Linked DNA regions of Homo sapiens: region 2 is linked to region 1. Evidence: fine-mapped expression QTL. A gene starts in region 1. The other region holds a variant in brackets. All regions are shown on one strand. Distances are from middle to middle. Region 1 holds the start of TAT-AS1 (TAT antisense RNA 1). Region 2 overlaps LOC105371334 (a long non-coding RNA gene).

Region 1 (5,378 bases):
TCATATTGTTCAAACACACATGTTCTACAATCAATTTGTACAATAGTGGTCCTGAGGTGACGTACATTCTCAGCTTACAAAGATAACAGGATTAAGAGATTAAAGTAAAGACAGACATAAGAAATTATAAGAGTATTATTAGGGAAGTGATAAATGTCCATGAAATCTTCACAATTTATGTTCAAAGATTGCAGTAAAGACAGGCGTAAGAAACTTTAAAAGTATTAATTTTGGGAATTGATAAATGTCCATGAAATCCTCATAATTTATGTTCTTCTGCCTCAGCTCCAGCTGGTCCCTCCATTTGGGGTCCCTGACTTCCTGCAACACAATGCCTTTTATTTCTTTTTCTTGTCTTATTGCTCTGGCCACTACTTCCAATACTATGTTGAATCAAAGTGGTGAAAGTGGGCATCCATGCTTTTTTCCTGATCTTAGAAAAAGAGATTTTAGTCTTTCACCATTGAGTATGAAGTTAAATATAAGCTTTTCTTTTCTTTCTTTGTTTCTTTCTTTATTTGGAGATGGAGTCTTGCTCTGTCACCCAGGCTGGAGTGCAGTGGCACGATCTTGGCTCACTACAGCCTCTGCCTCCTGGGTTCAAGCAATTCTCCTGCCTCAGCCTCCTGAGTAGCTGGAACTACAGGCATGTGCCACCACGCCTGGCTAATTTTTGTATTTTTAGTAGAGATGAGGTTTCGCCATGTTGTCCAGGCTGGTCTCAAACTCCTGACCTCAGGTGATCCACCCACCTCGGCCTCCCAAAGTGTTAGGATTACAGGCGTGAGCCACCTTGCCTGGCCGATACAAGCTATTCATAGATGGTCCTTATTATTATCTTGAGGTAGGTTCCTTCTGTTTCTAGTTTGTTGAGTGTTTCTATCGTGAAAAGGTGTCAAATCTTGTCAACTAACTTTTCTACATCAGTTGAGATGATCATGTGGTTTTTGTCCTTCATTCTGTTAATGTGGCATATTATATTGATTGATTTTTATATGTTGCATCTCAGTAATAAATCCCACTTGATCATGGTGTATAATCCTTGTAACATACTGTTGAATTTGGTTTGCTAGTACCATGCTAATCTTCTCTGTATTGTTCCAATTTTAGAATATGCACTGCCAAAGGGAACACTCCCACAGCTTTACTTTTTAAATATGGTATAACGTAAAAATACATTAAATTTAGGCTATCAAATGAGTTAAAGACCAATAATTCTTTTCTACATTTGAAACACACAAAAATTAAGACACACATGTGCTAGTTCTTCTGTTTATTGTTTTCTTTGAGGAATTGGGCATCACCTCCTATACAGCTTCAACCTTAACCTTAGCAAATGACTGACTGCCTCTTTGGAAGGTGCTGTGAAACAATTTGGCCTATAGAGAGCATCTGTATTTGCAGGTTCTATAACATTATATGAAACTTGTTTGTAAATAAACCTAAATTGTTTAAAATAAATAAGGATATAAATAATATGTACTGAGAATTCAGTTCTTTTCCAACATATATGCAATAATTCAAACTTCAGGGTACGTAAAATACAACACCTCACACAGAATAATGTGCAGAATATGCGGAGTAACAAAAATTCTCTCCTTGACCAAACTCTAGCCAGGTTCCTCTGAGCCATTTGTGGACTAGGCCTCAACAGACTTGAACAAAACTCTAACACAGTCTCTAACAGTTCAAGGTAGCATCTCTAGGATGACTCCAGCCCCGCTTTAAAGGGCCTGCCTAAAAAAACTCAGGCTGCCAAAGGAATTTACTGTTCCAGCCAACACCTTAAGATATGGCTCCTATCTCCCAGCATCTGTAGGAGGATAAAAGCCTAACTTCCAGAAACACCCTTTAACAAACCCAGATGGGTTTCACATGGACTAACCCCTACTTCGCACTTTTTGTAATCTTTCACTTCCCTCACTCTTCTGAGCGCCCCCTCATTCCTCTCCCCTTCCCTATTTCCCCATTTTTCCTTTAAAGTCTGAGTAACATTTGTACAAATCAAAGTTGAGTTCAGTTCGTGCTGGACTCCTCCTTATTCCATTAGTATATTACTGGTTAAAACCTGTCTCAACCGCTTTACTGTCCTGCTTTGTCTTTGACAAAGGCACGGGGGTGGATTTATTTTTCTGGCTGAGTAGAGATCCTAATGTCAGGCACTGCGGACGGTGAGGGCCACGATTCTTTGGAGAAAAGTTCCAAGGGGCTATACCATTGGAAACTAACACCAGCTAATAGAATTGTCTGCTCTGCGTCACAACTCATGGAAGTTGCTGCTTCTGATCCAGAGCTGGGAAAGGTTAACAGGTGATTACAAAAGCCTAGGATGTTTTGTCAACTTCCTGGAACAATTCCACCAGTCAGAGCCCAAACCGGGGGCAAAGGAGGAAGAGAAACTCGAAGCAGGGTGTGACCAGGGTAGACAGGCTGAAAAAGGAAACAAAATGTAACATCCTAAGAGAACGCAGAGGCCGAATAAAGGAACTAACCCTCACCTGCAGCTCAGATTCTACGCCGGCGCCCGGAGCTGTGTCCTGTTGCCTAGCGACGGCGCATGCGCACTGACTAGCGCAGCCCCCTAAACATGCATCCGCGCCTGCGCAGCCGCGGGTCGCCCAGGGTTGGGATGTTGGTGTCGGCTGGGGGCTGCTGTGAGGCGCTTGGTAGCACCCAGTCCTGATACTCTCCAGTTACCCGGTAGGCGGGGCTCGGACACAAAGAAAAGGTGAATTCGCAGCTGAGAGCCCTTGTTTCCGGTCCTTTTTTTTTTTTTTTTGAGATGGAGTCTCGCTCTGTCACCCAGGCTGGAGTGCAGTGGCGCCATCTCGGCTCACTGCAAGCTCTGCCTCCGGTGTTCAAGCGATTCTCCTGCCTCAGCCTTCTAAGTAGCTAGGATTACAGGCGCGCGTCACCACGCTTGGCTAATTTTTGTATTTTTAGTAGAGCCGAGGTTTCACCAAGTTGGTCAAGATGGTCTCAAACTTCTGACCTCGTGATCCGCCCGCCTCGGCCTCCCAAAGTGCCGGGATTACAGGCGTGAGCCACCGCGCCCGGCCGTCTCCGATCTTTACACGCATTCTTCGTGTTATCTGAAGACACTCTGACGCCACCACCCAAAGCAACTGGCAGTTGACTCTTGGCAATTTTAAGCTTGTGTGGAAAGCAGCCGCCGCCCGGTAGCTCCTTTTTATCTAGAGACACTCAGGATGTGGGGGACACCCCAGCAATGCCATCCCTCCTTTGACCTCCAGAGCGCGCAGAATTACAAAGTTGAGTAATACTTTATTTGAAAAAATGAAAAGTGCACACACACACACACACACACACACTTACATAGGCACAGTATAATCTGGAAGTATGACCAGCAAATGATAACTGATTCCCTCAGGGGAGAAGAAACTGGGTGGCTGAAGGACAGGAATGAGAAAGAAGGACAGTTGCGTTTGTTTGTATCGTTTGAAATTGTCCAGTGTGTATGTGTTCTTTTCAAATGTTTGAAGAACCATTGGCTCCCTTATCAAAATGTAAATACCAAGGAAAATCAGGAATTTAAGAAGTCTAAGAATTCTGTAATGCTGGGTAGAATTTTCTGTACGTGTAAAACTAAAATGTCTTTTGTAAATCACTGAGTCTTCCTGTTTATTTCTGGTTAGAGATCTTTGGGGGCTTGGATGGAGGAACAGGAAAAGAGGAGCCAGGCTTTTTTGGAAAATTGGCGGCAGCGGTGGCATACGGGAAACTGAAATCTTTATCTAATCTCATCCTTTGTATATTCGTCTTGGATTTGCTGAAGAAAATTAAAAGGTAAATTTTGCTGTGAGCTCACTGAACTCAAATTGAAAGGGAACATATGCTGTTTATTTTTGTGAAGGACATTAATTGGGTGTGACTGGCAGGGTTGAGACCTGAAGTTCCTCTTTTAGATAAGGAAAATTTCCCTTGGTGAGAAATCTCTAGACTAGTTATGATAGATTCCTAACCCCCAACCTTGAAAGGTAACTTAAGGCTCCCTCCTCTAAGGGAAGGGCTGAAGAAAAAATTAAACAGGCAACTGTGCCTATGAAGATTTGCGAAAAAAAAAAAAAAAAAAAAACATCTAGGACACTTCTCATTCACTGGGTCAAGCCAGAGCCATCAACTTTGTGACCTAGTGAGTGGTTAGTGGATATAGGCAAGCGTAGTAACTTGGGACCAGAGGTTAGGGATCCAGAAAGTTGAAAATGTAAAGACAAAGGCCAGAGGTTATAACTTACTGCCTCTTGGTAAGTAGGAAGCCAGAAGTTGAGCTCCCAAATAAAATGTTTTAGGAACTGTGGTTCTTAAGTAACTCCAAAAGTCAGTACATTTACAAAGAAGTAAATGAAACCTCATAGGTAATGAAACAATGAGACTGAGGAGTGCCTGGGATTAGAAATTCCCAAACGGAGAAAAAAACACATCACAGAAGAGCCATACTTGGTGAAATTTATTAAAAAAAAAAAAAGAAAAACAATAATTTATGCCCTTGGCAAAATAAAAGATCTTATCAATATAAATGTTTCTTAGAAAATGTATGAAAAGATAATATATATTAATAAATCAATATTAACATTACAGCAAAAGTAATAATGATTATATAACAATGACAAGTGAAGATATTTCTGGCCCTTACACAGTAGTATTTCTGGAAGGTCTCTGATTCCTGCTTGCTCTAGTACAGGCGTGCTCTCACTTTAAGAAAGCCTGATGCCGCTGGGCGAGGTGGCTCACGCCTGTAATCCCAGTACTTTAGGAGACCCAGGCGGGCAGATTGCCTGAGGTCAGGAGTTTGAGACCAGCCTGGCTAACATGGTGAAACCCTGTCTCTACTAAAAATACAAAAATTAGCCGGGCATGGTGGCTCACGCCTGTAGTCCCAACTGCTTGGGAGGTTGAGGCAAGAGAATCGCTTGAACCCAGGAGGTGGAGGTTGCAGTGAGCCGAGATCGCGCCACTGCACTCCAGCATGGGCGACAGAGCAAGACTCCATCTCAAAATAAAGAAAGAAAGAAACAAAGAAAAGAAAAGCTTATATTGAACTTCTCTAAAAAAAGAAAAAAAAGAAAGCCTGATGCACACAAATCTAAATTTGGCAAGTCGATCAATTAAAGGATATTTATTTGCATCACAAAATAATTCTTTACTCCCCCCAAAAATCAATAAAAAGTTCAAATAGCAACTTTTCCTAATGTGTTTAAAATGTAATCACCAAATACATGTGTCCCCAACTTCTTTCCAGTTATAATTCTATTGTGTAAAGTGAGGTATACCTGAAGTGAGGCAATAAGAGAGTTGAGCTTCAGACCTGCCTGGAGAGAGCGTGTTCTTTCTTAGAGTCTGAGGAAATGGTTGGGGGC
Region 2 (5,378 bases), 34 kb after region 1:
TAAGAAACAAAACAGGAGATATTATAACTGACACCACTGAAATACAAAAGATCATTCACAGCTGCTATGAACACCTTTACACACATAAACTAGAAAACCTAGAAGAGATGGATAAATTCCGGGAAAAATACAACCCTCCTAGCTTAAATCAGGAAGAATTAGATACCCTGAACAGATCAATAATAATAAGTAAGATTGAAATGGTGATTTTAAAATTACAAACAAAAAAATCCAGGACCAGATGGATTCACAGCAGAATTCTACCAGATATTCAAAGAAGAATTGGTACCAATCCTTTTGACACTATTCCACAAGATAGAGAAGGAAGGAACACTCCCTAATTCATTCTATGACGCCAGCATCACCCTAATACCAAAACCAGGAAAGGAGATAACCAAAAAAGAAAACTGCAGACCAATATCCTTGATGAATATAGATGCTAAAATCCTTAACAAAATACTAGCTAACTGAATCCCAACAACATATCAAAAAGATAATCCACCATGATCAAGTGGGTTTCATACCAGGGAAGCAGGGATGGTTTAATATATGCAAGTCAATAAATGTGATACACCACATAAACAGAATTAAGAAACAAAAATCACATGATTATCTCAATAGATGCAGAAAAAGGATTCTACAAAATCCAGCATATCTTTATGATTAAAACGCTCAGCAAAATCAGCATACAAGGGACATATCTTAATATAATAAAAGCCATCTATGACAAACCCACAACCAACATAATACTGAATGGGGAAAGTTGAAAGCATTCCCTCTGAGAACTGGAACAAGACAAGGATGCCCACTCTCACCACTCCTCTTCAACAAAGTACTGGAAGTCCTAGCCACAGCAATCAGATAAGAGGAAGAAATAAAGGGCATCCAAACTGGTAAAGAGGAAGTCAAACTGTCACTGTTTGCTGATAATATGATTGTTTACCTTGAAAACCCTAAGGACTCCTCCAGAAAGCTCCTAGAACTGATAAAAGAATTCGGCAAAGTTTCAGGATACAAGATTAATGTACACAAATCAGTAACTCTTCTATATATCAACAGCGACCAAACAGAGAATCAAATCAAGAACTCAACCCCTTTTACAATAGCTGCAAAAAAAAAAAAAAAAAAAAAAAAAAAGCTTAGGAATATACTTAACAAAGGAGTCGAAAGGCCTCTACAAGGAAAACTACAAAACACTGCTGAAAGAAATCATAGACAACACAAACAAATGGAAACATCCCATGCTCATGGATGTCTATCAATATTGTGAAAATGACCATACTGCCAAAAGCAATCTACAGATTCAACACAATCCCCATCAGAATACCACCATCATTCTTCACAGAATTAGAAAAAAAAAATTCTGAAATTCATATGGAACCAAAAAAGAGCCCGCATAGCCAAAGCAAGACTCAGCAAAAAGAACAAATCTGGAGGCATCACACTACCCGATTTCAAACTATACTATAAGGCCATAGTCACCAAAACAGCATGCTACTGGTATAAAAACAGGCACATAGACCAATGGAATAGAATAGAGAACCCAGAAATAAACCCAAATACTTATGGCCAAGTGATCTTTGCAAAACAAACAAAAACGTAAAGTGAGGAAAGGGCACCCTTTTCAACAAATGGTGCTGGGATAATTGGCTAGCCACATGTAGGAGAATAAAACTGGATCCTCATCTCTCACCTTATACAAAAATCAACTCGAGATGGATTAAGGACTTAAACCTAAGACCTGAAACTATAAAAATTCTACAAGGTAACACTGGAAAACTCCTTCTATGCATTGGCTTAGGCAAGGATTTCATGACCAAAAACCCAAAAGCAAATGCAATACAAACAAAGATAATAGCTAGGACCTAACTGAACTAAAGAGCTTGTGCATAGCAAAAGGAACAGTCAGCAAAGTAAACAGACAACCCACAGAGTGAGAGAAAATCTTCACAATCTGTACATCTGACAAAGGACTAATATCCAGAATCTACGACCAACTCAAACAAATCAGTAAGAAAAAAATCAAACAATCCTATCAAAAAGTGGGCTAAGGACAAGAATAGGCAATTCTCAAAAGAAGATATACACATGGCCAACAAACATATGAAAAAATGCTTAACGTCACTAATAATCGGGGAAATGCAAATCAAAACCACAATGCGATACCACCTTATTCCCGCAAGAATGGCCATAATCAAAAAATCATAAAACAGTAGGTGTTGGTGTGGATGTGGTGAACAGGGAACACTTCTACACTGCTGGTGGGAATGTAAACCAATACAGCCACTATGGAAAACAGTGTGGAGACGCCTTAAAAAGCTAAAAGTAGAACTACCATTTGATCCAGCAATCCCACTATCGGGTATCTACCCAGAGGAAAAGAAGTCATTATTCAAAAAAGATACTTGCACACGCATGTTTATAGCAGCACAATTCACAATTGCAAAATCATGGAACCAACCCAAATGCCCGTCAATGAGTGGATAAAGAAACTGTGGTATATATATAGAGATGGAATAGTACATAGCCATAAAAAGGAATTAATTAATAGCATTTGCCTGTGACCTGGATGAGATTGGAGACTATTATTCTAAGTGATGTAACTCAGTAATGGAAAACCAAATATCGTATGTTCTCACTGATATGTGGGAGCCAAGCTATGAGGACACAAAGGCATAAGAATGATACAATGGACTTTGGGGACTCGGGGGGAAGAGTGGAAGGGGGACGAGGAATAAAAAACTTCAAATATGGTACAGTGTGCACATGGGTGATAGGTGCAACGAAATCTCACTAATCACCACTAAAGAACTTACTCATGTAACCAAATACCACCTTAACCCCAATAACTTATGGAAAATTAAAAAATAAACAAAATAAACAAAAAAATTTACTTCCTAAATATCTCCGGAATCCATTTCCTTCTCCTTATTTCATCATCTCCTCCTAGCCCTAGCTACATCACCATCACCTCTTGGCAGAACTATGTGTAATCGCCTCCTTGGTAATCTTCCCTCATCCTAACCTGTT[C/A]TCCGTATTGCAGTCAGAGTAATATCATCCCAAAGTATTTTCTGATCATGTCACATTTCTCTCCTTCATCCTTGCTTAAAACTTTTTACTCCAGGCTGGGTGCAGTAACTCACGCCTGTAATCCCAGCACTTCGGGAGGCCGAGGCGGGTGGATCACGAGGCCACGAGATCGAGACCATCCTGGCTAACACGGTGAAACCCCGTCTCTACTAAAAATACAAAAAAATTAGCCGGGTGTGGTGGCGGGTGCCTGGAGTCCCAGCTACTCGGGAGGCTGAGGCAAGAGGAATGGCGTGAACCTGGGAGGCGGAGCTTGCAGCGAGCCGAGATCGCGCCACTGCACTCCAGCCTGGGCGACAGAGCAAGATTCCATCTCAAAAAAATAAAAAACAAAAAACTTTTTGCTCCAGCCTGGCCAACATGGTGAAACCTCGTCTCTACAAAAAAAATACAAAAATAAGTTGGATATGGTGGCATGTGCCTATAATCCCAGCTACTCCAGAGGCTGAGGCAGGAGAATCACTTGAACCCGGGAGGCAGAGGTTGCAGTGAGCTGAGATCACGCCACTGCACTCCAGCCTGAGTGAGGCTGACTCAAAAAAATAAATAAATAAATAAAAATTTTTAAAAAAACATAAATAAACAAAAAAAATTAAAAATTAGCACCTGCAGATTGTCCTGGCTGCTTGGGAGGCCAAGGTGGGAGGATGGCTTGAGCCCGAGAGTTTGAGGCTGCAGTGAGCTATGATCATACCGCTGCACTCCAGCCTCGGCCACGGAGCAAGACCCTGTCTCTAAATTAAAAAAAAAAATTAAGAAACAGAAAAAAAGAAATAGATCATTTGTTCCTCTGTGTGAAAGTTAACTTGGAGCAAATTCTGGGGGATAGGGGATGTGGAGGTAAAGACTGCAGCCTGCTGGGGGTGACATGCATTCCCAGAGAAGGAAAAGATGCTGAATGGAGAAGTCTCAACGTGGTGAACAGCACTCTTTGTTTGTGTCCAGACTGTACTGGAAACTGGCTCTTAGAGTCAGAGTTCCAGAGTTCCACCCTCCTTGGTCCTAGCCTGCTTCTTGCTTTCATCCACCTTCCTTGGGAGATTGTGAAACCCACGTTGGGAATCACCAACACCAAGGTACGATTGGGAGAGGCGGGGCATGAGAGCAGGATAGGGCACACAGCGAACATCAGTGTGCAGAAGGTCGCCCAGGCCCACAGATGGGCTGATGCAGGTGCCGTTCCTTGGCAAGGACTGTCCATGTGTCATCACTGACCTCTTCAGGTCTAGAGAACTGCAGTTTTCTCCAGCACCTCCTGGACTTCATCCATGGGTGCTATGACAGAAAACAGAACGATGTTCAGAGGGCACTGTGCAGTCCTCAAACCGTGGAGAGGCCCAGAAGAGAGACAAATAACTACACAGGACTCCAATCTGCTATGGCTATGTTTCAGATGTAGGCCACAACAGTTCTCTTTGTTTGGAAAAACAAAGTGGCAAAACACATTGTGACACAAAAAGATCTCAGCCGGGCGCAGTGGCTCATGCCTGTAATCCCAGCACTTTGGGAAGCCGAAGCAGGCAGATCAAGAGATCAGGAGATCAAGACCATCCTGGCTAACACGGTGAAACTCCATCTCTACTAAAAATCCAAAAAATTAGCCGGGCATGGTGGCGGGCGCCTGAAGTCCCAGCTACTCAGGAGGCTGAGGCAGGAGAACGGCGTGAACGCAGGAGGTGGAGCTTGCAGTGAGCCGAGATGGTACCACTGCACTCCAGCCTGGGTGACAGAGCAAGACTCCGTCTCAAAAAAAAAAAAAGATCTCTATTCTTCGGTCCAGGAATTTTACTCTTGAGAATGTATCCTAAAAAATAAATGGCGTGGAAATAAATCTTTGGTCTATAGTGTTTAAAATCCTGGACTTCAGTATTAGAGAAACCCAGATTTTGAATCCAGTATCTACCACTTAAGTCAACTGTGACCTTGGATGAGTTACTTAACTTCCACTTCCTCACCCGCAAAACGAAGATAATAATTTTCCTACTTTGAGCTGGGCATGGTGGCGTGTGCCTGCAATCCTAGCTACTCGGGAAGCTGAGGCAGGAAGACTGCTTGAGCCCAGGAGTTCAAGATAAGCTTTGGCAAAATAGCGAGATCCCTCTTGCTCTCAAAATAATAATAATCATCATCATCATCATCTTCCTATTTCACAGAGTTTTTGAGAAATATGTAAGATAATGCAGTAAAGATCAGTGCATAGAAGGCCAGGCGCGGTGGCTCATGCCTGTAATCCCAGCACTTTGGGAGGCCGAGGCGGGAGGATCACCTGAGGTTGGGAGTTCGAGACC

What was found. PIP is the estimated chance that this variant, and not a neighbour inherited with it, causes the effect.
Region 2: its variant is the best candidate, but not a certain one, in a credible set for the expression of TAT-AS1 in T cells (TOPMed, PIP 0.61).

What each region holds. Positions count from the first base shown.
Region 1 is chr16:71,562,395-71,567,772 of GRCh38, forward strand. TAT-AS1 (TAT antisense RNA 1) reads left to right here and starts at 2,622. Exons shown (of 3, transcript NR_103852.1): 1 at 2,622-2,728; 2 at 3,657-3,807. TAT (tyrosine aminotransferase) reads right to left here. Exons shown (of 12, transcript NM_000353.3): 12 at 3,266-5,378. LOC124903710 (a long non-coding RNA gene) reads right to left here and starts at 2,546. Exons shown (of 2, transcript XR_007065106.1): 1 at 2,499-2,546; 2 at 1,259-2,430. It also overlaps the pseudogene RNU6-1061P. RefSeq lists an enhancer at 3,042-3,573.
Region 2 is chr16:71,596,720-71,602,097 of GRCh38, forward strand. The region is part of intron 2 of LOC105371334 (a long non-coding RNA gene); the gene reads right to left. Among named protein-coding and RNA genes, the nearest start is that of TAT, 22 kb to the left of the region's middle. The variant C/A (reference allele first, on the strand shown) is at 3,031.